5 separate regions of the Homo sapiens genome follow, and all the other regions are linked to region 1. Evidence: fine-mapped expression QTL. A gene starts in region 1. Each other region holds a variant in brackets. All regions are shown on one strand. Distances are between the middles of the regions.

Region 1 (5,102 bases):
AGAAGAAAGAAGGCATCATGGTGGCCTCAGCGACTGCTTTCTTATTTCAGGGCTTGAAGCCACCTGGGACAAAGCAGAATGGGCACATTCTGCTGGTGGTTGCTTTCCTTCTCTCCTCTTTCTTTAGGCAGCAACTCCTTGTTTTTCCCCTGGACATTGACTCCACCCCAATGCAAGCAAAGATTCCACCCTCCCCTGCTAGGCTCCTGATCGCTCCCCCAGGAGTGTGAGTCTTGACAAAGACTTCAAGAAACAGCCCCTCAATCTATGCCGCCTGGAGCCACAGAGATGCCCAGCCATGGTCCCCGCGTGATTTCCCATGGTTCCGCAAGCTGTCCTAGAGCCTCTGGTAAATTTATTTGCTGTTGTTTTTATTTGTTTAAAGTAACCAGAGTCCATTTCTACCAAAAATACCAGGAAGCTATCAATGTAATCCTCCATTTTAGGGGAAATTTTAGGGGAATTTAGGGGAAATTTTAGCCAGATATCAGGGGGACTTTATTCTCCTTGCCAGGTCCCTAAAGTAATAAACATATTATGGTTTTTGTTTGTTTAATTAGCCAGTGTCCGGGTGACAGGCCTTAGTCCAAAGAGATTTTCTGCAAAGTGCTCTATTTTCTGCTCAGGCGTCTCTTAACTACTAGACTGTTTCAAATATTCAGAGATTCTTGACTCCCTCCCCTTAGCCAGGCTGCCCTCATACCCGGGCATCTCCGCTAAAGGGAAGAGACCAGGGTCAGGCACCACGGATACCCATCACACCTTCCCAGTGAGCTGGTCCACCTCCCCTATCGATCGGCAGAGGTGACATCCAATGACAACTTTTTCTCCTTTATTTGGCACCAGGAGGTGAGTTTCTCCTGCATTCTAATGGAGACATTATAAAAGCACAAGCAAGCAGAAATTGCCCCCGACAAAGAGAGATGTTTTATTCAACTCTTTTTATTCAATCCTTTTCCTCCTGTTCTGTGATCTTGTGGGAATGGGAGAGCCCATGCCTTTTTCTACCTGGCGTCAGTTGAACAAGACTCTCCATGTATTCACAGGTAAAGCAACAGAATCACCTGGAGGTAAGCTAAAAGCCCCAACAGCCTGCTTCCCCAGGACCTGCAAGGGTCACTGGCACTTGGCCCCACCCCAGATACTGTGAGACATAAATCATTTGAAGCCAATGGGAAATCCCATCTTGGAAGCCTAGGGCTGAGTGCCCACAACAAAGCCATTTCTCTCCTGGGGGAACTGGATCGCACCTGTGGGGGCTTCCTGTGGCTCCTTCCTGGCTAATCAGCCCCCCCCAGCGCCCAGGGCCATGGCCTCCTCTGCTATTTGGCTTCTAGTGCCCTCTCAGGCCCCTGGGCACTCCTGAGGCTGGTGAAGGCAGGAACCTGGTTTTACCAGTTTTAGGAGCTCAGAAGGAAAGGAAAGGAGAGGCTTCCCTGTCACAGAGAAGTCTGGAAACTTGGCTTATTCAGGTCTGACCCGTCTCTAATGGTCTGATGAGATTGTTGCCTGCACTGAGTGAGTTTATAGAGTCATGATAAATCCTCCTAAGACCATGCGTGGGGTTCAGTGTAGATATGACTTCAGCAAGAAGTTAGTATTCAGCATCCAAAGGGAGAACCTTTGGCGGGAGGAAGGATGGGAACTGTCAATATCCCCCAAGGGACAGAAAGAAAAGGAAGAAGTGGGTTTCAGCTATCATAGGAGGGATTTCAGTTAGACTGTAAGAAGAACTTCCCAGTTTTGAGCATTTCTAAATATCTCTGAAGTTCCAGGATATATCTTCCCATTTAGAAAGGTCACTTGAGATCTGGGATAGATTCAGAGAAGATGGAGAAGGACAAAGGAAGGCAGGACTTTGGAGTGTCCTGGGTGACCTGATAGCTGGGTCGACATCCTTTTCCTTAGAAGGACAAGGAATAGAGTACATTGTTGAACAGTTTGGTGGGGTGTGGACAGGGCGATTCTGAGGTCCTCAGACATGGAATCAAATCCTGGCTCTGCCACTTACACTTAGCAACCACATGACTGTGAAACGAGAACCATGGTACCTGCCTCAGAGAGTTCAGCTAAAGATCAAATGCCATATTGAGTATCAGACATGTATCATAGCACCTAGCCCCAAATCAGCCCCCAGTAAATATTAGCTATTACTACTAACGAAGGAAACCCTGAAAGTTTGGAGCAGAAGTCTGGACCCCTCTTGATGAATCTATTTTTGTCCCACCTCTCTACCGGTGACAAGTGCCAGCATTGGTGTTAATCTCCAGGCTGCAGCCTTCTGGCCACTCTGAGAACTGGGACCTAGAGGGCCAGGGCGCTTACTACCAGAGTAACCTGGCCACTGTGCCACCCTCCCCACTGGCCACCAGACCACGGGCCCTCCATCCAGAAGGACAGCCCCGAGAGGAAGGGAGTCCTCCTGCCTGCCTCCCTCCCTGCCCCGTGGCAGGCTGCTTTCCCCTGTCTCCCTCCAGCCCGGTCTTCAGAGAAATCACTTCCCAAGTGCTTTCAGGCCCGGTACTCACAGTCTTCCCGGCGTCCTGTGGGTCTTGAGCAGCAGACAGTTTCTTTCTGCCTGGACCCCCGCCCCCACCCCAAAAGAGGCCACAGAGCTTCAGCAGGAAGTTTGGCCTCCCCGCCCGTCTCCAGGGAAGCAGCTTTTGGTCCCCATCTGGGGCAAGCCTCCATGCCCAAACATGGTCAAGTCTGAGCACACAGCCTGGAGACACAGACTCGGAGAGCAGGTACCCAGCCCTGAGGAAGGCAGCTGTTACCCAAGCCCTGCACCTCCATCTTCCCAGAGTCTCGTGGGAAACAGATTTCAAACAACAACAGACAGCAAGACTGAGAAACTACGAAAGATCAGCCTGGTATATTTGGAAATATTTCTTCTTCTCTCTGTCTCTGTGGGCTGGCAAAGATGCCAGAAATAGGAAATGATTCTCCTTTTGTTGGCATGAGGAAGGGTGGAGTTGGGCTGGAGGGGTTGGGCTTGTCACTAGTCCCTGGCATATCCACGCTGGAGCAGCTACAGCTCCCTGCCTTTGGCACTTACGTGCTGTGTGACCCTGAGCAAGTTATGGCACCTCTCTGGGCCTCAGTTTCCTTTTTTGTTTTTGGTTTTACTCCCAAACTTATCGTTAAATGACCTCAGTTTTCTCACTTGTGTTACTGGCATTTTTAAAACCTACTTTGCTTTAGGGTAGTGATGGGAGTTAGAGACGGTGGGGATTTATGGCAAGGGGAGAGAACTGACTTTTTAAGGACCAACTGAGCTGAAGCTGGGAGTAGTGAGAGCTCCACAACTGCTTCCAACCAGGTCCAGGGACAGTCTGCTCACCAGGGGCCCTCCCAGAGACCGCGAAAGTACAGAGATTTCTTCCTAGCAATAAGACAAGTGAATGTCAGCATTTGCAGGCAAAAAACATGCTTTTAGATCTCTGCTTCTTCATCTGTAAAGTGGAAGTAAGGATTAAAAATCAGCAACAAAGGGCAGGCACAGTGGCCCACGCCCATAATCCCAGCACTTTGGGATGCCAAGGTAGATGGATTGCTCAAGCCCAGGAGTTTGAGACCATCCTGGGCAACATGGCGAAACCCCATCTCTACTAAAAATACAAAAATTAGTCGGGCATAGTGGTGCATGCCTGTGGTCCCAGCTACTTGGGAGGCTGAGGCAGGAGAATCGCTTGAACCTGGGAGGCGGAGGTTGCAGTGAGTCAAGATTGTGCCACTGCACTCTAGCCTGAACAGAGCGAGACCCCGTCTCAAAAAAAAAAAACAAATATATATATATATATATATATTTTCAACAAAACAACAAAAACAATCCCAGATATTGGGGCTTTCCTAAGTATCAGGCGTGGTGGTAGAAGGCAGCTTATCTCCACCCTTCACTTGACCCAAGAATCAAAGAACCTGAAACTGAGACTTGGAGGCTTGAAGTCACTGGTGCAACCCTAGGGGCCAGAACTAGATTCGAAGCTGGCCCTTCCAGATGGCACAGCTTGGTCTGTCTCTGATGACCCTGGGGCTGCTCTGAGACATTAAAAATCACCTCGATCATACAGTAAGCTGCCACCTGAGGCTCTGGAGGTCACCCTGAGTTTCCCCAGCCCCCAGGGAGGTGGGTGCAGCCTGGCCTTCCCTGCTGAGCGAGCTCACCACCTTCCTCCCTCCTGCCTCCAGCAGGCGCGAAATGAAGGCAGCCACTCAGGCCTCCCTGACACACTCTCAGGCGGTGAGTGCCCTTCTCCACCCCTTTCCTAATTGAATCTTATTAACAGGAGACTACAGTGTCTGTTTAATGGGCACCATAGCACCAGAGGGTCTAAGACCAGCTTCAGACCTTGCAGGCAGATTGACAGAGGGATGTAGGATCTGGAATTCAATCTCAGAAGAGCAATTTTCCAAGGATGATCCTCTGTCCACTCAGAAGCAGGAAAAGTCCTCCTGGGGCTAATCCAGAAATGCCAGGCCCCCCTCCTGCTTCCCTGGGGGAGAGATACACAGTGCAACAGGCTGCCATTTATGAGTATAACCGAAGGGCTCCTTGCTCGTGATACTCTGAATAAGTTATTAAGGGCTACATATTATTTGGAAATCATAAACAAACTTTAGCATTCTTCCCAAGGGAAGGTGGGAACAAACAGGGAAGGGGGGCCGTGGGGTCTTCTGCTCCCCCTAAATGAGCCACAACCAAAAGGCATTGACAAGCCCTGTCCTCGAGGGTTTGTGGGTGAAAACCCAGGTCCTTTGCTGGCTGCGGGGTTGTGTGTGACAGATGGCTACAGGTGGAGGGCAAGAAAATAACAATGCTGCAACAATAAATATTGACGGTTTGCATTAGTACGGGGTGTCAGAGATCACAAAATATCTTCTCTGACTCTTCCAACAGCTTCTTAAGGTACTAGCACAATAGGCTCACAATAGACCACTGAGGTGGAGATTTTTCTACCCATTTGATAGAGGGAGTAACTGAGCCTCAGAGAGGTGAAATAAATTGCCCAAGCAAGTTACTTTGCCTCTCTAAGCTTCAGTTTGTCTGTCTCTAAAATAGAGATAATTATACCTAGCCCCTCAGTGTTTTTGAGGAATGA
Region 2 (5,102 bases), 29 kb before region 1:
AATGAGATTGTGCAGATAAAGCTCCCTGCCTATTAGGTGCTCAGTAGTGTTGATGGATATGACTTCTGTTATTAGCGGATACTCTCATGGTTGAGAGCCCCTCCGGGCTGGGACTCCCTCTCACTCATTACTTGTTTTCTCAGCACCAGGCACAGATTCTAAGAGCAACATCTCATGATCACTTTATGAAAGCCTATGGCCTTGTCAGTTACTGCATGACTTTATTTATTTATTTATTTTGAGGCAGGGTCTCATTCTGTTCCCCAGGCTGAGTGCAGTGATGCAATCACGGCTCACTGCAGCCTCGACTTTCTGGGCTCAAGCAATCCTCCCACCTCAGCCTCCTAAATAGCTGAGACCACACATGTGCACCACCACAACCAGCTAATTTTGACTGTTTATAGAGACAGGGTCTCACTATGTTGCCCAGGTTGATGTCAAACTCCTGGCTCAAGAGACCCTCCTGCCTTGGGCTCCCAAAGTGCTGGGATTACAGGCATGAGCCACCACGTCCAGCCACTGGATGACTTTAGACCACTGCTTCCCCTCTGCTCAACTTGTTTTCTTAAGGGCCTACCCAGAGCCATCTCCCTCACCTGATTCCTTATTAGGAGTTAAAAGCCTGACTCCCAGAGCCAGGTCCTCGCCTGCTGTTTAACCTAGGAGAAGCCCAGCTCCTGGCTCGGATGCTTGGTGAAATCAGGGGTCTGGGGAACCTGCGTCTTCCTCTTTCTGCACAGTCAGCTCCCCTCCACCCGCCTCACAGACTTCCTGGGGGCCGCTGGCAGGAACCAGAAGTTGTGCAGGCTCCATTCTGGCTGGGGAGGTTTAAACTCATCTCCTTCTGCACTGGGAACAAATGTTACCCCAGGCACAGATGACAGAGCCAAAGTGAGCAGAAGGGAGGAATCCAATCCAGGAGAGCTTCTAGTGTCCTCCAGGCCACCCATGAGGCTGCGGGGGTGGGGAAAAGGGGTGTGGGAAGATGAGATCTATCTCAAGGACAAGGCCCTGGAGCCGTAACTCTCCCCTCCCGCCCAGGCCCAGGCTGTTCCTCTTTTTTCGAGGCAAAACCTCAGCTGCCCCATCAGTGACACACTGTTCCTCTTGCCTCCTCCCACTGCTGTTCAAGATCCTCAAGAGACTGACCTTGGACCCGGGCATGGACTCTGCCTTCAAGCAGGCCAGGCTGGAGTACCAACTCTGCCTCTTACCAGCTGTGTGAAGTTGTGTCATTTGAACACCACCCCAAGCCAAGGCTCCCCACTTTTAATTGGAGATAATAATAATATCAATGGCACAAGGCTGTTTTTTAATGTAATGATGATATGAGTAAGAGATATCAGCTCACAGGCAAATCCCAACTCTGCTCTTGCAGGGCACCCGCCCCCGCTTACATTTTGTGCCCTAGGCACCTTCCTTGCCTCTTTCTAGTCTTGATCCTGGAGGTAGGGATTGCAATCACCATTTCAGCAGGTAAGGAAACTGGGGTTTAGCTAAGTGTCGTGGCTCCCCTGGTGAGTGGCAGAGCTGGGATTAGAACCCAGGTCTTGCTGCAGCCAAGACAAGGTACATTCCTCTGCACTCCTAGGGCTGGAGAAGTCACGCCTGCCTGCACTACTCCCCACCTTGCCACCAGCAGAGAGTCCCCCAGCGTCCCACTAATTCTGTTGGTGGGTTTTTCCCTGCTGGGTCTGATCAGAGCAGCCACCTGTCATGCAAAGGGTTGTGACAAATTCCATAAAGTGTCATCACCTGGGTTATGGGGAAAGGGAACACTCCAGAGGCCAAGATCAGCAGGACAGCCATACCCATGCTCTCTCAGTATCCCTATCACCTCTCAGGCAGGTGTGCAGGCCCAAAGCACCTGCCAGACACTGAGTAGGCTCTGTCCCATGAGGGCCACTCCCCCATGGCTCTCCCTTCTTACAGGCCAAGTGTGAGAAGTGTTCTTGGGTGTGGGAAAATACACACAAAGTTTTGGACACTAGGCAGGCTGGAATTGAGGTGTTGCAGCTGTTTACTGGAATTGTCTGGGAAAGCAGAAGCCTTCACACTGGGGACTTTGAGACCTGTGAGATATCATCATCCCTCTACCAAGAGGAGAATGCCACCTGTCCCATGAAAAGCTAAGCTTCAATGCTGCCCCTTGCTGGGGAAAGAGAGTCCCCACCATCCGAGTCCTGGCTCGCTCACTGTCCTGGCAGTGAGGGGCTGAGCAAGCACTCTGGTCATGTTACAACAGCCCCACTCACTCTCTGCAACCCTGGAACCTCTGAGTGCCAGTGCTTTGTCACAGGAAGAAAGTTTGATTATCCAGGGCTTCTGGGTCCCTGCCTACCTCTCCAGCCCCAAGCTAGAGCCTGCCAGGAGGGGCATGTGTTCACCTTGGCCCTCCTGATGTCCAGTAGCCTTCATCCCAGCCTACTGGCCTCACCACCCTTGCCCCTCTGCAGCAGGCCCAGCATTCCCTGACCCATTTGGGTTGTTCAGGTGCTCAGCTCACTAGGGTCTCCATAGTCCCACAGTAGAAGGCAGAGAAGAAGGAGGGATCACCTGCCCCTCTGGAGCCTCCGGGTCTTTCTCCTAGATAACCCTGTTACCATGCAGGAGTAATTTGTTCAGGGCCATTTATCCTGGCACTGCTGCACAGACATCCTATTAACTTCAGGACCACAGGGGAGCGGCTAGTTTGCTCCAAATTAAAAGTAGCTGGAAACGGGGCCCTCTGGCAGGCAGGAGAGTTCAGGCTGCCACACCACAGCCCTGGGAGAAGTGGATCTAGTCAGGTCTTCATCAGCCTTCTAAGTCCAGGGCCTCCTTTGCCATGCCACAGGGACCCTCATCTTCCCCAGTCTTCTTAGGGTTACAGAATCTCCCCTGGGCCATCTCTCTCAGCAGACC[C/T]AGGTCCCAAATCCCTGAAAGCCTTTGCTTCCCAAGGGTGGAAGTGGCGATGTGAAGTCACTGTGGAAGGAAGCAGGATGCAGGGCGGGAAAACTCTGGACCCAGAGGGACCTGGGCTCCAACCCTGCCATGCACCAACAGGACAGCCTTGGGCAAGCCATTCCCCATCTTGAGTCTGTGTCCTTCCGTAAATGGGCCAGTAATTTCCATCTCATGTGGCTACTGGAGATGGAATGAGATGGGACATGTGACAGGCACAGGACCTGGCTCATACAAGCTGCTCAGTAAAAGTCAAGTTCCCCACCCTTCTTTTCTATGATACGACCTTGGATTTGTAGCCAAGAGAAACAAGGCTGAGCCTCTGTGGGTCAAGTCCTCTTCCCAGCTCCTATCCAGATGTGCTGCTATTTCAAAATTATCCCCCCTGCCCCCAGTCACTCTTGATGACAAGTTCTATAATTAAAAATGTGCCAACAATGGAAATGATCCTTTTTATTTAGTTGTTCATGGGAGAATTGGTCATCCATTCTCATGAGAATGGGAGCCCTGTGAAAGCGTTCACCACGTTCACCACGTGGGAATCACCTAGAGTGAGTGCCTCAAGCACCTGCAGCCGAGGAAGGAAGGTTGAATAAATAACGACTAAATGCTTTCCCTGCCGAGCAACATCAGGCCATGTGGCTGGAGTTCCCTTTTTGAGGTCTGGTCTTAGTCAGGCTTGCTCTGGAGCCTACCACTCCCTATCTCCCTTGTCTGAATTCCTGTGCTGGAGTTTGACAGCAGTGACCAGCCAGAACGACCTGGATGAGACAAGGGTCAGTGCAAACAAGACCAAAGGCCTGTTCCTGCCCCCATTCCGCTCTCATGCTCTGCTGGGGGACTGCCCCTGGGTGCAGGCCCACACTGCCTATGCATCACAGCTGGCCAGGTGCTCAGGTGAGGCGGCGGTTCTTCCCCGTTGTCCACCTGCACCCCACCCAGAAGTGCAGGAGGAGGGACCCCACTGAAAGGCAGGCAGCAGGGGAGAGGAGCTTTGGGGGAGAGGATGTGGAAATGAGGAAATTGCATAGGCCTCCCGGGCCAGCTGGAGGAAAGAAAGGCCAGGACTCCTGAAAAAGACTCATGGGAAGTCATTTACTATCACCACTGACCACGCTCTCTGTCACAGGTCTTCAGTCTAGGGGCAGAAGAAAGCCTTCCTTCTCTGTTAGGATGAGGGGAGGAGGACCATGAACACAAAGCTAACCTTGGTCCCCTCTGGCTGAAGCCACTGAGATTCCATTTTGTGTTCTTAGAAGAACACCCGCTTTGGAGCCAGACCTGGGTTTGAGTCCAAATCCTCACAACTGCTTGCTGTCTTAGGCCATCAGGCTGCTTATCAACCTGATGGCCTAAGCTACCATACAAAGACACGGTGGCTTATCAACAACAGAAATGTATTTCTCACAGTTCTGGAAGCTGGAAGTCTGAGATCAGGATGCTAGCACTGTGGACTTCTCGTGGGGACTCTTCCTGGCTTACAGACAGCATCTCCTGCTGTATTCTGACGTGGAGGAAAGAGAGTAAGCTAGCTCTCTGGCCTCTTCTTATAGACACACCCCATTCAAGAGGCTCCGCCTTCATGACCTCATCACCTCCCAAAGGCCCCACCTTCAAATACCATCACCTCAGGAGTGGGATTTCAACATGTGAATTTGGGGGACGGGAGGCACAAATATTCAGCCCATTGCACTAAGTAAATGGCTTTTTTTTCTGGGCTTCAGTCTCTTCATCTCTAAAATGAAGGAGCTGCTGATTTCAAAGGCCTCTTTCAGCTTTGGAATTTAAAGATTAAACAAAATTGCAGCACTGCTGGTGGCACCTGCCATGTGCCCAGCATTGCCTGAGCACTCCATGCCCAATATTTTATTTAGTGCACATGAGAAACCTAGGAGGTGGAGTGCTCTAATTAACCCCACTTACAGATATAAAGAGCGAGCTTCAGACGGGGGACCGGCCTGCTTGGAGTCACACAGCCAGCATGAAGCATAGCCACAACTGGAAGCCTAGGCGGTCTGGCCCCAAGCCCTGGGTTTTACTTCCCTCCCCAGCCCATCCCCAGTACACTCTTTCCATTTCTGAAAATCAGATCCAGGGTAAGAAGCAACGAAGACAAAACAGATTCCTTCCCAGTTTGGCCAAGAGGCAACACACACTCT
Region 3 (5,102 bases), 95 kb after region 1:
CTAACCTTATCTGAAGGGGCTTATGAATTTGGGATTTATTACCTTGACAGAAAGAAATATTGAGAATGACCCCACCCATGCTTTATAGCAATCGCTCTTTATAGTTTATTTCATAGTGACAAGAAGGAACTCATCCATGGTGGGTTTTTCCCTGAGTGGTCTGTATGGTCATATCAGAACTGAAATCATCCCTTCTTGCTTCTGAGCCCCCGTTTCCAAGTCTTGTTCTTTGTTTCTGTAGGTAGTAAAGTGAATTCTTTAAATCCCTGCCCTCCATCAGCTGCTAAAGCATTCTGCTTCCCTCTGATAAGATTAACAGAATGTTGGCTGTGGTTACGGGATGCTTTGCAGTCTATGTCTTAAACCAAGCCAGCCATGTTAGCATTTCCTCTAGTGGTGGTGTTTTAGGCCAATTGAGAATGTGGGTGATATTAATATTTTCCAACCAGCTGATAACAGGAAAGACACTTCTGCTTGGAGTCCACTTTGAGAAGAGATTTATTATTTAGGCAGCACAGGACACCTCCATTAATCTTCCCCCAGCAGTGCCCATCTACCATCAAGTTCATATACTTTCCCCAGGGTTCAAAGAAGGGTATAATTTTAGCCAGCGATTAGTCAATATTTATCAATAAGAATAATAACAGTAAAATTACAATGGCCAATGTTTGAATCCCTAATGTGTGCCAGGCACAGTACGGGGCCTTTTGCAGCTATTATATCATAAAACCCTTACAACAGCCCCATGAAATTTGCACCATGATTTGCTTCATTTTACTTTTGGGGAAACCACGGATCAAGTAACTGAAGTGATTTCTCTAGGACTCACAGATGAGCGGTGGCAGAGCCTGGAATTAGATATATCTGATGTTAGTGTTTTGAGGAATCACTCTCCCCAAAAGCCATAGCTCCCAGACATTCTTATGTAATTTGTCTTTGCTGAGGCTTGGGTATTGATGATTTAAAAGTCCCCAGAGACCAGATTTCATCTGGTATGCTGTGGGAGTCAAGTAACGTCCAAGGCCAAGCCTGTCTGAGAGAGGTTTTTATTAGCTCCAAAATTATAATAACTTCCACAGCCTTCTTCCACCAATTCTGCCTTCCACTGAAACAGCGCTGGTGATGTTTAGAGGTATGAGTTTGGGACAATTATCAGGAGAAGCATTTTGGTGCTATTGTCCCACCCCTTCTGTCCTGAGAGGTTTTATCTGGTCTTTCAGTATTTCAAATAGGTCATGACTAGATTCCATGCATCCCTAGAAAACATAGCCTAAATTTTAAATTAAAGTATGAGGTGGAAGAAACAGCCTTTCTTCCCTTTTGTTTCCAAGGACAGATGGAGTCAAAAGTGGAACTGGGGCCCGCAGAGCCGGATAGCTTGGGCAGTACGTGTGTGCACCTGCAGGCTGTGGAGACAGGTATTTCCATGGAGCTCACTCGCCCTGCCTCTCATCCAGGCCTGAAAATCATAGGTAACTATGAGGCAAGAGGAACCCAGGGTGGTGGGAACACCCTAGGGTGATCCCAGGCTGGGGACCTTTGGACTAAAAAGATGAAAGCCAACATTCCCTCCCCAGGAGGAGATGCAACTCCTGCACTCTCTAGTGACCATCACTGGGATATTGCACAGATCTGCAGTCACCTTCTAAATCCCCTTAAAGTGGACCTAGCCATCCTCTCCATTTTAAGACCACATCTCCTGTCTGCTACAGCCCCTCTCGCTTCTTTTTCTTTAAGGATATCTGGCTGGTTGTATTGGGTTAACATGCAAGAAGAGAGTACCAATCACTCCATAACTTGGGTAATGCATGTCAATGGTGATCTGTGTGGGGCCGCAAGGTTCCAGATGGTTGGGACAACTCTACAATCAGTCACATTTGGGTTGGTTAAATCCCCCACTCATCTTTACAGCTGTATCCTGCAAGTTAGTGGCTGCCTGTCTCTGAACTTCACCTTCCTTATGGTTGTCAAAAATACCTCCATGGGATAAAAACGCAGCATCTGTAGATTCCCAAATAGGTGCAAGTAGATTCCCAAATAGGTGCAAATAGGTTCATTCGTTGGTTCATTCTGCAGTCAGGGAGCTTTCAGTCTACTGGCATGCAAGACGCAATGATAATGAGAATACTTCACAATGAGTGTGACGTGATGACTGATGAATGTGACAAAGGAGAAGTAGGATGCACTTAGACAGCCTGGGGGAATTGAGTTG[T/C]GGCCAGAAGGGAGAGAGAGTGTCCATTCTCCACCTCATCACTTTGCTGCCAAGAGAAACAGGAATTTCTTAGACAAGTTCTCAGGTCCCTCGGTGAGACTGGCAGCCTAAAAAAGGCACCAGGGAGCAGGGGGCACTCACATCATGCCATCCCCCCACAGAGCATCCCGCTGGCCATCTGCATCAGCCCGACCCCCACAGGATAGAAGACTGGCACATCCAAGTTGCTCCTTCCACACCCTCTCCCCACTGAGGCCTCGTCTCCTCCGCCCTGTGGCCAATTGAAGGTGAACTCCTAACGTGCATTCTGCCTGGGATCCCAGAGGTTGTGGCAGCCAGATGAGTCACCTCACAAATACAGCACGTGTTCCTCGGGGGCGGCGGTGGGAGGAAACACGTGAAGAGCTCTCTCTGTGATAATAGACCATTTAGAGCTTCAGATGGCGAAAACAAGCTGATCAGGTGCAGGCCCTCCAGGAGGCTGGCAGGTGACTCCCAGCCAGCACGCCCTCCATCGCACGTTGGGGAAGCTGGAAAGAGCCTGGTGGCTGCCGGGCCTCCCTCTGGCATCCTCTCTCCCTCCAAGGCTGTGTGCTCCCCACCTTGTCTCTCCTTTTTTCATTCCATTGCTCTGTTCTGTTTCTGTCTACCCATTCGTCTTTTCTTCCTCTTCTCTTTCTGTTGCCATTCTCTTTCTCTTCTCCTCTCAACATGTCCTTCTCTCTACCCGTTTCCCCCTCCCCTTCTCTCTCTCCTCCCTCTTTCCCTCTCCCTCTCTTCCTTTCCCAAATCTCTCTTAGCCAGGCTCCTTTTCGCCCTTTGCCTCTCAAACCCTCCTCCACCTTTCCACCCTCTCTCTGCGTTCTGCTTCTCCCTTCTTCCTTCCGTGTCTCTGGCTCACTTATCTGCCCTCTCCACATCTTCTTCCATTTGCCACCCTCCCTCTCTGTAGCCACACCCAGTGGGCTCAGAGCTGGGTCTTTCTTTTTTTTGTTTTTTCTTTTTTCTTTTTTTTTTTTTTTGAGATGGAGTTTCACTCTTGTTGCCCAGGCTGGAGTGCAGTGGCGCAATCTCCACTCACTGCAATCTCTGCCTCCTAGTTTCAAGCAATTCTCTTGCCTCAGCCTCCTGAGTAGCTGCGATTACAGTCATGCGCCACCACGCCCGGCTAATTTTGTATTTTTAGTAGAGACGGGATTTCTCCATGTTGGTCAGGCTAGTCTCAAGCTCCCGACCTCAGGTGATCTGCCTGCCTCGGCCTCTCAAAGTGCCAGGATTATAGGTGTAAGCCACCGCACCCAGCCAGATCTAGGTCTTTCATCCCCCTACACAACCCTGGCCTGGCCTGGGCCTCTGGTCTTGGGCCTGGAAGGGAGTCCCATCCTCCCTCCCTCAGCTGGATTTCTTAAGGATAAAACCTTTGCTCCTTCCTTCACCACACCTCTCCACATCCCAAACTCAAGCCCACAGAGCCCAGCTCTGGGCCCAGGGTGTGGACGGGGAGGGTGGCTGGTGGCCCAGAGCTGAGCCCTGTGAGTCAACAGCATGCCTAGACTCACACACAGACACATGGCCCACCTTCAGGGTCATGAGGATTCATAAACCCTATTCTGCGAAGTGCCTCCAGGAATCATCAAGGGAGCTAGGGCAGCTCTGAGTCTCCACCAGGCCCACCCTCCGCCTCTCAGGGCTGAGCTTCACTTCCCTTCCCAAAGGGGCCAGGGAGAGGGGCTGCTGATGACATGATCTCAGAGGAAGGCCAAGGCCTCCAGGCTGCCTCTGGGCCTGGCACAGGAAGGAGGAGGAGAAAATAGGGAGCCCAAGGAAAGATCAACCCAGCCCAGCCCAAGGACCCCCAGCCCCAGCCCCAGCCCCAGCTGGGCTCAAACTAATTGAAAACAGACTGGAAAAGGCTGCTTTTGCCCTTCCTCTAGACTCAGCATCATCAAGACTGGAGGGACAGAGCATTTGAATCATCAGACGCTGGGCCAGACGTCACCCCACGCGTTTTCTCATTTTATCGTCCTAAGAAGCCCAGAAGGTGCGTAAAATGGCCTGTCCCAAACAGATGAGGACATTACCTTTCTCCTCTTCCTCCTCCTCCTTCTTCTTCTTCTTCTTTTTGCTTCATTTTTCTTTCATTTTTTCCCCCAGATGTTGCATTTCAGAGAGGCTGAGCGTGTTGACTAAGGTCACACAGCTACAAACATCAGGGACCTGCGAAAAAGCTCTGTTCCCTGGTGACAGGTGTTCTGTGATCCTAACACAGCCGGAGGTGGGGACAACGTCCTTGCAGTAACAAAGGCCCTGTTGCTCAACTCAGTGGACATCAGGCCCTGTTTTCATTCATTAGCAGGTCAGGGATTCCAGTGTCACCTGTGCCATGTATTCCAGCTGATCTACCTGCAAGCCTCTACTCCCCATTTTCCCAGCAGCAGCCGCAGACACCACCCAACTGGCAGAAATTTCAAACAAGGGGTTCTGCCTTGCACTCCGGTGCAAGGGTTGGGCACGTGGACTCACATGTGACCAATCACATTGTCTTTCCTGAGATCCTGCATTTTGACCAGAGGAATCAAGAACAAAAAGTGGTGGCAACTGATTTATCCTTAAGAAATCCAAGTAATGAGTTCCTGCTGCCAAGATTTCTGGGATTTCCCTGGCTCCTGCCAGTTTCTGGATTTGGTTCTTAAGCATTTTCTGGGTGTGTGAGCCCCATACCCTTCTCATAGCTTCTTCAGCCAGAGTCAGTTTCTGGTTTTTGCAATCAAAAATAACCCAACTAAGATTTGCTATCCTGCAGGCAAGAGAGGGCCACAGCTTGATAGTCAAGGTTAGCCATTGTCTGGGCCCTGCCTGCCCCAGCCAGCTTTCTTTCCTCCCCAGCCTG
Region 4 (5,102 bases), 63 kb before region 1:
TTTGGAGATTTCAACATTTGAGATTATGGCATTCGGGATTGTGTCTTTCAAGATAATGGCCCAGATTCATAACCAGGATATATAAATAAGCTCAAAATGCCACAGTAAGAAAACAAAGACCCAAGTTAAAAATGGATAAAAAGACTTGACCAAACACTTCATCAAAGAGAACCTACAGACATCACATAAGCATATGAAGAGATGTTTGATATTATTAGCCTTTAGGGAAGTGGAAATTAAAACCATGATGAAATGCTGCTACATACCCTAAGTACATTAAAAATACTGACAAAACCATGTGCTAGTGAGGATTGGAAGCAACTGGAACTCTTACATATTGCTGGTGAAAATGCACATGGTACACCACTCTGGAAAACAGCTTTGTAGTTTCTCATAAAGTTAAGCATTCACTTATCATGTGAACCAGCATTCTCATTTTTAGGTAGCTATCCTTGAGAAATGAAAACGTATGTCCACACAAAAACCAGTGTGTGAATGTTTATAGCAGTTCTACTCACAATCACCAAAAACTGTAAATAATCCAAATGTCTTTCTGTTGGTAAATGGATAAATGGTAGCACATCTTTACCATGGAATGCTACTCTGCAATAAAAGAGTGAACAATTGATACACTCAACACCTGGGGTGAATCTCGAAGGTATTATACTGGGTGAACAGAGCCAGTTTTAAAGGGGTACATTTATAAGACATTCTTAAAAAAGACAAAACTAGAGTGATGGAGAGCAGAACAGTGATCGCCAAGGGCTAGGGGTTGGGGAGAGCACAGCTGCCAAGGATTAGCACAAGGGAGATTTTTGGGGTGACAGAACCTGTTCTGTATCCCAATTGTGGTGGTAGTTACACAAATCTAGACATTAAAATTCATAGACCTGTACACACAAAAAAGTCAACGTTACTATATGTTAGTTTAGTAAACAACATTTTTTAAGTCCTGAAGTAATACTACAGTGATGGTGGTCAGCCATCACTACCAGTACCTCTGAATTGAGGACAGATGACTACATGGTACAAGCAAGAGGTTAGATGATTCTTTAAAAACATCTGGAACTTACATTTATCCATCCATCAAGGCATCCACCCAACCAGCCAGTCATTATGGGTTGTTCTAACCAGCACACAACCAATTCTTGTGGAGAAGGCAATATGATGGAGGAGGAAGGTATAAGGAAAGACAAAATACATGAAAAAAGTTAAGTGTGATGAGCATCAACAAAGAAATACATTGTTGACTGGAAAACAGAAAAGTTTCTAAAGTGGTTTCCACTTAGGCAAGAATTTACCAGACTCATATCACGTTTAACAGCCTTCAGTTATTTTACTTACTGGGCTATTCCCATGCAGCTATTTGCACTCTGGCACAAAATATCTAATTTGGCATATTTGCAAAATGTATAACACTATAGCTATTTTATATATATATATATATATATATATATAGTATAAAATGCAGCAATGTTGTATCTACAACCCTGAATTTACTTTATATGAAGTACTAGAAAGTCTAATATATTCCAATGTATTGGGAAGTGAAGAATTTCAGTTTCAGGGTGTGAATGAAGTGTCCCTCTGGATGGGGATAATTAGCAAAAAAGGAAACTAGGAACCGAGAATGGAAATGGAAGGTCAGCAGAAGAAAAGGAGGAATGGAGGTTTATTACTTTTTAATTATTGCATTAAAGCCCTGGAAGACATGGAAGAACAGGAGAGAGAGGATGGCCTTCAGGCAGCGAGTGTGTGGGGCACCACCCAGAGTGTTGAACAAGATGTCAACATGGCAAAGCTGAGACCACTAACCTTGGGGACTGGAAAGGGGCCTTGAGAAATGTCTACCAGTTTCCAAATAATAGAACAAATACCCCAGGTTTGGTATCTTTTTCACAATCTAGGACTTTTTGTGGGTGATTCTGACTCCAGTGGAGGCCCAGGAGGCAGAACCCAGAAACTGT[G/A]TACAACCTAAAAAGAATTGACATTTGGTTTGAGGACCAGATGAGGCGCAGAAACAAAGTGCCTTAGCATATGTGTTGCCTGCAACAAAATAATATAAATCTGCAAACTTATTTTTAAACGTCTAAAAAAGTAAGATGAATTGATGGATGGGTAAAGGAATAGCTAATTGATGGATAGATACGTGATTAAAAAAAATACAAATTTACACCCTCAAGGAGGTGACGCGTAATTCCTCATTAAGTTTTTTGAACTGTGGGATGCACCTAGTAACTTCCTTTCAAAAAGTACACATGGAAAGGAAGGAAAAAGTGTAACTTCACAGTGGAGAACCTGACCAGCACTACCTCAGCCAGGTGATCAAGGTCAACAAGAGCGATGACATGTGGACAGTGTGTATCCTTGATATGAGATGAGAAAAGCACTTTACCTCTGCGGTCTTTCTTCTAAAAATCCACATCCACAGTGTAATTGCCAGAAAATCATCAGACAAATCCCAACTGAGGGACATTCTATGAAATACCTTGTAAGTACACCTCCAAGGTCAGGAGTTGAAGACCACCCTGGCCAACATGGTGAAATCCTGTCTCTACTAAAAATACAAAAAATTAGCCAGGCCTGGTGGCATGTGCCTGTAATCCCAGCTACTCAGGAGGCAGAGGCAGAAGAATTGCTTTAACCTGGGAGGCGGAGGTTGCAGTGAGCTGAGATCGCACCACTTAAAGTATGGATTTTAGTTAATAACACACCAATATTAGTTAATTAGTTATTACAAATGTATCATACTAATATAAGATTTTAATAATAAGGGAAACAGGCTAGGAAGTATATGGGAACTCTGTACTTTTGTAATTTTCCTTTTTGTAGTTAAAAGGTTTATTTAAATAAACAAGCTTAGTAAAACATTAATGGTTGAACCAAGGTTGTGTGTATATTGGTGTTAATCGTAAGATTCTTTCAACTTCATTGTAAGTTTGAAATGATTCATAACTTTATTTATTAGCTAGCATTTATTTGTAAGTTGAAACTTCAGGGTAGGAAGATCCTGAAATGCTTCAAGCACCTACAAGCAAACAAAGGTTTGCAAATTAAAATTAACGGTAGAGCACTAACAAAGATGTGCAAATTGCCTCTGAGGTTGTTTTTACTCGGTATGCTTTGTTCACTGCTTTATATTAATCGAAGTAAAACAATTTGTAGGGATATTAATAACTTTACCATCAACTCGGGTTCCTCTAACCCTAATATTCCCTTGAGATTTTAAGTTTCGTAATCATAATTTGTCCTAAGTGCCCACGGTGTGGGAGAAGCTGTGTATTTATGTTTCTGCAGATGATCTATCCTCCTACTTCACAGCAACAAACCTGAGGCTATCAGGCATAACTGCCCCATTTCCTGTCCTCCTACCTAGAAGCTTATTTATAACCTTCCCACCCTTGCCCCCTTCCTTCGAGACTCAGAGAGCAGTTCAGGGTTGGCCACTTATTGTGTCACTTGTTCCTCCCCTTCCTAATTCTTTCAAGGCATTCACTTTTTTTTTAATCAATTATTTTATTTCTTCCTCAAATTGTTAAACTTTACACACCAACTCTTCATCACAGCCCCCAAAGCCTGTGAATCTCATCTTTAAACAGTGAATCATGTCCTCCCAAAGCAAAACAAATCAACCACCCTAACACCTTCTCTCTGCCTCTGTTCTCCTCTGCCTCTTGCCTCCTGTCTTTTCCCAAAGCCAAGGTTCTGCAGAAGACCATCTACACCTGTCGTCTGCATGGGACTTTCATTCCTCAGTACCCAACTCTCCACCGAGAGCCCTCTGACAAGGTCACTGAGATGTCCCCAAAACCCATGCCAGCAGCCTCTTGTGGTCACCTTCTTGCTAGACTTTTAGCAGCAGGTGACACCCATGACTGAGTGTCTGCTTGGTATTCTCCCCTCCCCTGGCTTCCAGGACCCCTTTGGCTAGTCCTCGTCAGCCTCCTTTGCTGGTTCCTCTTCCTCTGCTCACCCTGATAAATATCAGAGCTCTGTCCTTGGTCTTCCTCATATCAAGCCCTAATACACTCTTGCTACACAATCCAACTCCCCCCAAGGCCACCCTCAACTCCAGTGACTCTCAGATATACACTGCCCCACAGAATACCAAAAGCCAACACGCAACTTGTTTTCAACACTCACTATGTGCTAGGCACTGTTCTAAGCATTTGACCTATGTTGTCTCATCTAATCTTTACAACCCTATCAGGGTGTACTATCATTAACATCCCATTTTACTGAGCACAGAGCTCAAACAACTTGCCCATGTCCACACAGCATGAAGCCAGGATTCAAGCCCTGTCCCACACTGTGCTCCTTGCAGAACATCTCCACCTCAAGGTTTTTCATCCACCTCTAACCTACCATGCCCCAAATGGAATTCACAATCCAAATGGAATCCTTTCCCCCAAACTGTTCTCCTTGTATTTCCAGGGGAAGATCCAGGCTTGGTGGAGCCTGAGGATTCTATAATTGGCCAGGAAGGGGCTCTTTAGGAAAAAATAAATAAAAAGAAAACAATGAATACAAGAGTAGGTTTAGGACCTTGATAGTGGATGTGAAAGGGAGGGATTCTCGCACATAACCTTCATTAGCTTCATGGTGAACCCCACCCCATACATTTTGTATTCCAGTGGCTAGCATCTAGTCATTCCAGCAGGGGCATGGAAAATTCTTCTCTTTATATTCCCTCCCTCTTCCCTTCTTCATCCATATGGAACCATGGATAGCACTCTAGTTCTACCTTCCTCAAGTCTCTAGAATCCCTCTTTACCTTTTCACGTACACTATCCTGATTAGCTCAGGTCCTCAACATCCCACACTCGGACCATAGCCATAGTCCACTCTGTCTATTCCTGCCACTTCCTGGACTTTCCCCAACACAGTTCCTGTGCTTAGCAGGGTGACCATCAGAAACATGCATCTCATCAACCCTTCTGTGATGGTCCATTTTCCTCTGACTAGCATCTACATTCCTTAGCCCAGCAGTACCCAGCACAGGTCAATCTTGCCAGCTTTACTTTTCCCTGTGCTCTCCTTTTGTTCCTTTCTTCAACAAATAATTATTGAGGACCTATTCTTGAGTACTATTATGAAGTGCC
Region 5 (5,102 bases), 93 kb before region 1:
CCATTGGTTCCTCTCCCTTGCCTGCCCCAGAAACTTAGCACTTTGCGGTACTTGTGGCTAGCCAGGCTCCCCACTGCCCTCCCTTGGCTAACAGAGGGCCCAGTCCCCACCTCAGCCTCGCTTTCACTACCCCCTTGGGACTGCCTGAAATGGAGAAATTGCCTTGCTCTAAGGCTTCGGGGCCAACCCTTACAGAAAGACTGCCTTCAAGGCATGCAGAGCTCTGCCCTATGCTCCTCAGGAAGGAGAGCTAAAAGAAGAAAAGAAATACCATCCATTGTCTCGATGCCCAGAGACGACCTCGGTGTTTCTTTCCATGCTTTCTTCCTAGCATGTTTCTAAACATAATTGAGGTTATGATTTATATTCAATCTCATTATTCTGACTTTTTTCTCTTAAATTACCTAAAGGGATAATATAAACACTGCCTAGTGTTATGCAAACTCAATTTAAAATAATTTTAATGACCACAACATTATTTAATCATGCCCTTATTGCTGAACATTTAGATTATTTACCAAGCTGCTGTTTCAATAATGATAATAAAAACGGCGAACAATTATCGAAAGCTTTCTGTGTGGCAGGCAGTGTACCAAGTAGTTAAACTAGTCTTCAATCATTTAACCCTCACATTTTGCAGATGGGGAATGAGAGGCACAGACAGCAAGTAACTTGCATGAGGTTCCATGGGTTTTAGGTGACAAGTTTCAGAACAGGCTTTAATGTCTCTTTCAGAAATATTCCCCTTTTAATTACAGCATAACTTATATACAGTAAGTAAAATGAGCAAATGAAAATGCAGCTTCATTTGTTTGCAGTACCTCATCCCAATCAAAATAGAGACAATCATGGATACTATTTTGCGAACTTTTTTCTCCCTCTTTGAGATAAATTGTTTAAGTCAGAACCTCAGAACCGAGTTATATAGGATCCATAGGAACGAGCATTTTTAAGATCTTGGTTATTTTCCTAGACCAATCAGCAATCATATGAGGTGCTAGTTTCAACTTGTCCTCAACAGCATAAATGTTCACATTTGAAGTATCTCTCAACTTGCTGCTTTGGGGTGGAGCATTTGAGGTTAAATGTTTCTCCTTGAGGATCCTAGGTTCTTCTCACAAGGGTGGGCCTCATGGTTTGTGGCAGCCTTCTTTTGGAGCACATTTTAAGCCATATTTTTATCTTATAGCTAGCAAATCCAAAGAATAAATACAATTGTTATGAAATCTTAGCTTGGAAGGGTGGGATGATTATCACACTCAGAAAGCTGACTTAGAAGTTGATATTGAAAGCACATCCCATCTATGGAGCCCTGGTATCCCCTTTATCTACAGGCAGTGGGGGGTAAGTGGTTCTTGGAAGAGTCAACTGCCTTTAATTCATCATTCTCACTGTTATCATTATGAGATAAACCAGATGATTTTGAAGAGTGCTAACTTTGTGTCTAGATCAGCAGAGAGTCCTGCAGACTGGGACCCAGGCATTTGATTCTGCTCCAGCAAGATCTAGGCTTGTGGACCTCAAATCTGTATTTTTAAGGAGCACCCTAGACGATTCCTATGGCATCCAGCATTGGTAGGCACTGGTCCAGAAAAGTTACCTGGATTTGTAGTAAGGAAGACTGAGGCCTCTAGAGGGAAAGAGGCTGGTCTAAGGTCACACAGTGAGCTGGGATACCAGCTGGGACCCCACCTGGGATTAGGACACACAGCTCTGAGCCAGTGCCTCTCCACTGCACGACCCAAGGATGTTCTCCTGCAAGTCAAAAGGAATTGGAGAGATTGAACAAATATGTAACATGGTCTCTGTCCTCAGGAGCTTATATTCCAGACACAGGACGAGGTACCCATGTCAGAGACAAGAAGACGCAAAGTCCCACCAGTCTGCATGGGTGTCCCCAGCTAGGAGCCAGTTAATAGAGAAGGTAAAAGGGCAGAAGGAACACGCATTAGGATCCATTTGTCTGCTGAGTGCCTTGCACACATCATTTGCTTTAATCCTCACAACCAACCCATTGGGTTAGTTACTGTTCATATCTCTATTTCACTGATGAGGAAGTTGAGGCACAGAGAGGCAAAGCAACTACAGGAAAGTCGCCAAGCTAGCAGGTGGCAGAGCCAGGGTAAAGTGTGTCCGACCTCAGAGCTGAGTCGAGAGCTGTCTCCAAGGGAGGCCTGACCCCACTACTTGGGTAGAGTTTGCATCTGCAGATCAATTCTTTACATGTCATGTTTGACAGCTAAGATCCATTCCCAAATGACTCTGCGGTCCATTCGTTTGGTAGTTTCTTTCAGGGGGCTGAGGTACTCAGAATCTGAAGGGTTTCTATCCAAGTCTGTGGAGGGACTAGAACTTCCAGGATCACAGATTTGCCTCAGTCTCCTAGTTTCTTCCCTCAGTCCATTTATGGCAGAAGAAGGAACCTGCCTGGGTGCTGTAGATTTGTCCTGGGGTCTGAGATCTCCAGGAAGAAAACTCTCCCTTCCCCCAGCTCAGGCAGTGAGGTCTTCCTGTACCATCCCTGACCCGTGGTCCATCTCCCTGTACTGATGGGAGTTTTAGGGATCAATTCTCTGTTGCTCAATTGGATTGTATAATTCTCCTGGTCACACCTGAATGTTAGGCCTATCTGTGCCTCTCAGCCCGTCCCAAGTCTTTCTCTTCATAATTCTCAATTCCTTTCTTTTTCCCTTATCAAGGTAACATGCCACTTTATTCCCTCTTGGCAAATTTTACCTTGTTGCCCTATCTTATTTGGTCTATATTTGAGCAAGATATTTAGAAACATCCTTCAAAAAACCAGTTG[C/T]GCAACAATATTTGCTGAAATCTAAGTTTATTATGACCTTGCAGAAGGAAAATAACAGAAATGAAAGCACAAAATATGGCAAAAAACAGGATCTGTGAACTGTACCCCTACCATACCACACCTAGTTCAACATGTTCTCATTTTCTTCTTCAGGTTGGGGGAGAACAGCTGTGACTATAAATGCCTCGGAAATGCATAGACCCCAGGTTTGGCTATACGTCCTAGGGAACCTCGTCTACCCTCTTGAATCTCAATTTCCCCAGGAAAAACACGAAGCTGAATTAGATGACTTCTACCATCTTAGCTTTACAATCTCATCTTTATGACAGTCTGGAATATCAACAGAATCCGATGCCAGCCTGCAGGGATGAGGGTGTTAGAAGCTTAACCGTCTCGCACAAGTCATCTTACCACATGGTCAGGGTAGAGGGACTATAACTAAGTCATGTGGCTTGAGATCTGCCCAAGCAGATGCGTTGTCCCCTTCTGCCAATGACCAAGCACAGGGATCCTTCAACCTTTCCTCTAAGTCCAGAAGATAAGACAGCAACGCTCTGGTCCCAGCACCGCCACAAGCCTCTTTTCCTCTAGGGGCCTCAGTTTTCATAGCTATAAATTGGGGCTCACATCAGTTTTCTGTCCTGCTTCACAAGACTCTCATAAGGCTCCAAGGAGACTGCCCCAGGCGGGAGCTTGAGGACCCCCCTTAGGGTCGTGAGCAGTGAAAGCCCAAATGCTGTGTCTGGCACTGCTCATCATAGTCCTCTATCCAGCCCTCCCACCCTGCCTATTCTTTCTCCTGCCTCCAGGACACCACGTCTCCCCTTTCTAGTAAGTAGCGTTGATCTCATTAGCAGTTACAACAGTTCTCTGCATCTCAGAGCATGGACTTTAAAACCAGATAGGTGTGGCTTGAGTCTTGCCTCTATCACATGTAGTCCCTAGGGCTTCGGACCATTTCACTTCCCTGAGCTGATTTTGCAGCTGAGTCAAGGGGATAACAATGCTGACCTCACAACATAGTAGGGAGCGCTAAATGGGACAGTGCCTGTGAGACACCGAATTCAAACCCTAGCACATAATAGGCACATACTCATTTGAGGGCTTCTGCTCCCATCCTTCTCTCCGGAACTCATGGTCAGGAAAACTCAGCGGTCTATATGGCGCTCACTCAACCAGTAAAGTTGCCATAGGGTTCCATTGCTATCTTATACACCTCCCACATTCTGCCCCAATTCCATCGTCAAGCCTCAGCTCAGCCCACCAAGGGCACTAGCATCATGACCATTCACACAAGAGCAAGGCTTACCTTCTTGAAATAGTCAGCAAGGCTGTCGGGGTCCCAGCCCAGGACCTCTGAGCGAAAGGGCACATTCCTCAGTGCCATGGCTGCTCTCCCGGGAAGAAGCTCACAAGCTGAGCATGGGCGCTTCACCCATGGGCAGAGAAGCTCAAATCCAGAGCTCGGAGGCGTTCTTGGCTCTTCCAACTCCCAGCTACCCTGTGGAACACCCCTGTTGGAGCCGATGTCTTTTCTGGCGTAGCCAGATCCCAGAAAGCAACGGCTTCCTCTGCGAACAAATATGGTCTCTTCTCAGAAAACGACTCAGCTAGTTTCCTTTACCACTTCCTCTGCTGGGCTCTAAATAAGTAAACAAGGAAGCCCAGCTCTGGAGGCTTGAGATGCAGAGAGAGCCACAGGGTTGGTAATTCCCCACTGGCTCCAGTCACCCCAACCCAGTAGGAGAGGCAATGAAGGGGTCTTAAACTCCAATGTGAGTCTGAGTAATTTTCCTTTAAACTCTGGGCACCCATATGTCTACACTGCATTCTTGCTCAGCTGGGGCTTTGCAGACCAAAATCTATCCTGACGGTTGACCTGAAATACAGACAATTTCCCACATCAGTGAACTGCTGGAGCATGTTTTTTTAATGCTTTCCAACCACTTTCCCCTCCCACCATCAAAGACTGGGATTCTTTCAGCTGCCTCTTTACAGTTGTCATGAGAGGGTCCTCAAGGAGTGAGTGAGTCAGGCACCCAGGGCTGAACAAGGTGCTACACTGTGCAGACAGGGCTCAGTTTCTGATATGACTATTTCTGTGCTATGCAACCTTAGGCAAGGAGTTAAAAGCTGGGAATCTCAGTTTCCAAATCTGTATAATAGGAAAACAGTGATTCTTCATATGCACATAAAACTTAGATGCATTCAACTAGACAAACCTAAAAAGAAAAATTAAAAAGAAAAAAAACTTAACAATTGCTATTGGTAGTGTCATATATTCCATTCACTATTG

Direction of the effects. Positions count from the first base shown, and alleles are read on the strand shown. Sizes are in standard deviations (SD) of each study's normalised expression. Not every link is listed here.
In carriers of allele T in region 3, the expression in spinal cord of the gene that starts at base 2,637 in region 1 tends to be lower than with C alone (moderate effect, 0.41 SD a copy in GTEx).

What was found. PIP is the estimated chance that this variant, and not a neighbour inherited with it, causes the effect.
Region 2: its variant is fine-mapped to the expression of KCNMB1 in whole blood (TOPMed, PIP above 0.99).
Region 3: its variant is fine-mapped to the expression of KCNMB1 in spinal cord (GTEx, PIP above 0.99).
Region 4: its variant is fine-mapped to the expression of KCNMB1 in whole blood (INTERVAL, PIP above 0.99).
Region 5: its variant is fine-mapped to the expression of KCNMB1 in whole blood (TOPMed, PIP above 0.99).

Annotation. Positions count from the first base shown.
Region 1 is chr5:170,386,731-170,391,832 of GRCh38, forward strand. It overlaps KCNMB1 (potassium calcium-activated channel subfamily M regulatory beta subunit 1), which reads right to left and starts at 2,637. Exons shown (of 4, transcript NM_004137.4): 1 at 2,529-2,637. It overlaps KCNIP1-OT1 (KCNIP1 overlapping transcript 1), which reads left to right and starts at 2,763. Exons shown (of 3, transcript NR_109899.1): 1 at 2,763-2,873. It also overlaps a transcript of KCNIP1 not described here. RefSeq lists enhancers at 752-1,252, 1,253-1,753, 3,678-4,178, 4,179-4,679, 4,932-5,102.
Region 2 is chr5:170,357,309-170,362,410 of GRCh38, forward strand. It overlaps a transcript of KCNIP1 not described here. Among named protein-coding and RNA genes, the nearest start is that of LINC01366, 28 kb to the left of the region's middle. RefSeq lists an enhancer at 3,795-4,295. The variant C/T (reference allele first, on the strand shown) is at 2,905.
Region 3 is chr5:170,481,724-170,486,825 of GRCh38, forward strand. It overlaps a transcript of KCNIP1 not described here. Among named protein-coding and RNA genes, the nearest start is that of KCNIP1, 20 kb to the right of the region's middle. RefSeq lists an enhancer at 3,247-3,747 and a silencer at 4,563-4,729. The variant T/C (reference allele first, on the strand shown) is at 2,213.
Region 4 is chr5:170,324,014-170,329,115 of GRCh38, forward strand. No RefSeq gene overlaps it. Among named protein-coding and RNA genes, the nearest start is that of LINC01366, 4.8 kb to the right of the region's middle. RefSeq lists an enhancer at 3,817-3,916. The variant G/A (reference allele first, on the strand shown) is at 1,968.
Region 5 is chr5:170,293,419-170,298,520 of GRCh38, forward strand. LCP2 (lymphocyte cytosolic protein 2) reads right to left here and starts at 4,359. Exons shown (of 21, transcript NM_005565.5): 1 at 4,116-4,359. The coding sequence starts at 4,193. RefSeq lists an enhancer at 3,462-3,541. The variant C/T (reference allele first, on the strand shown) is at 2,807.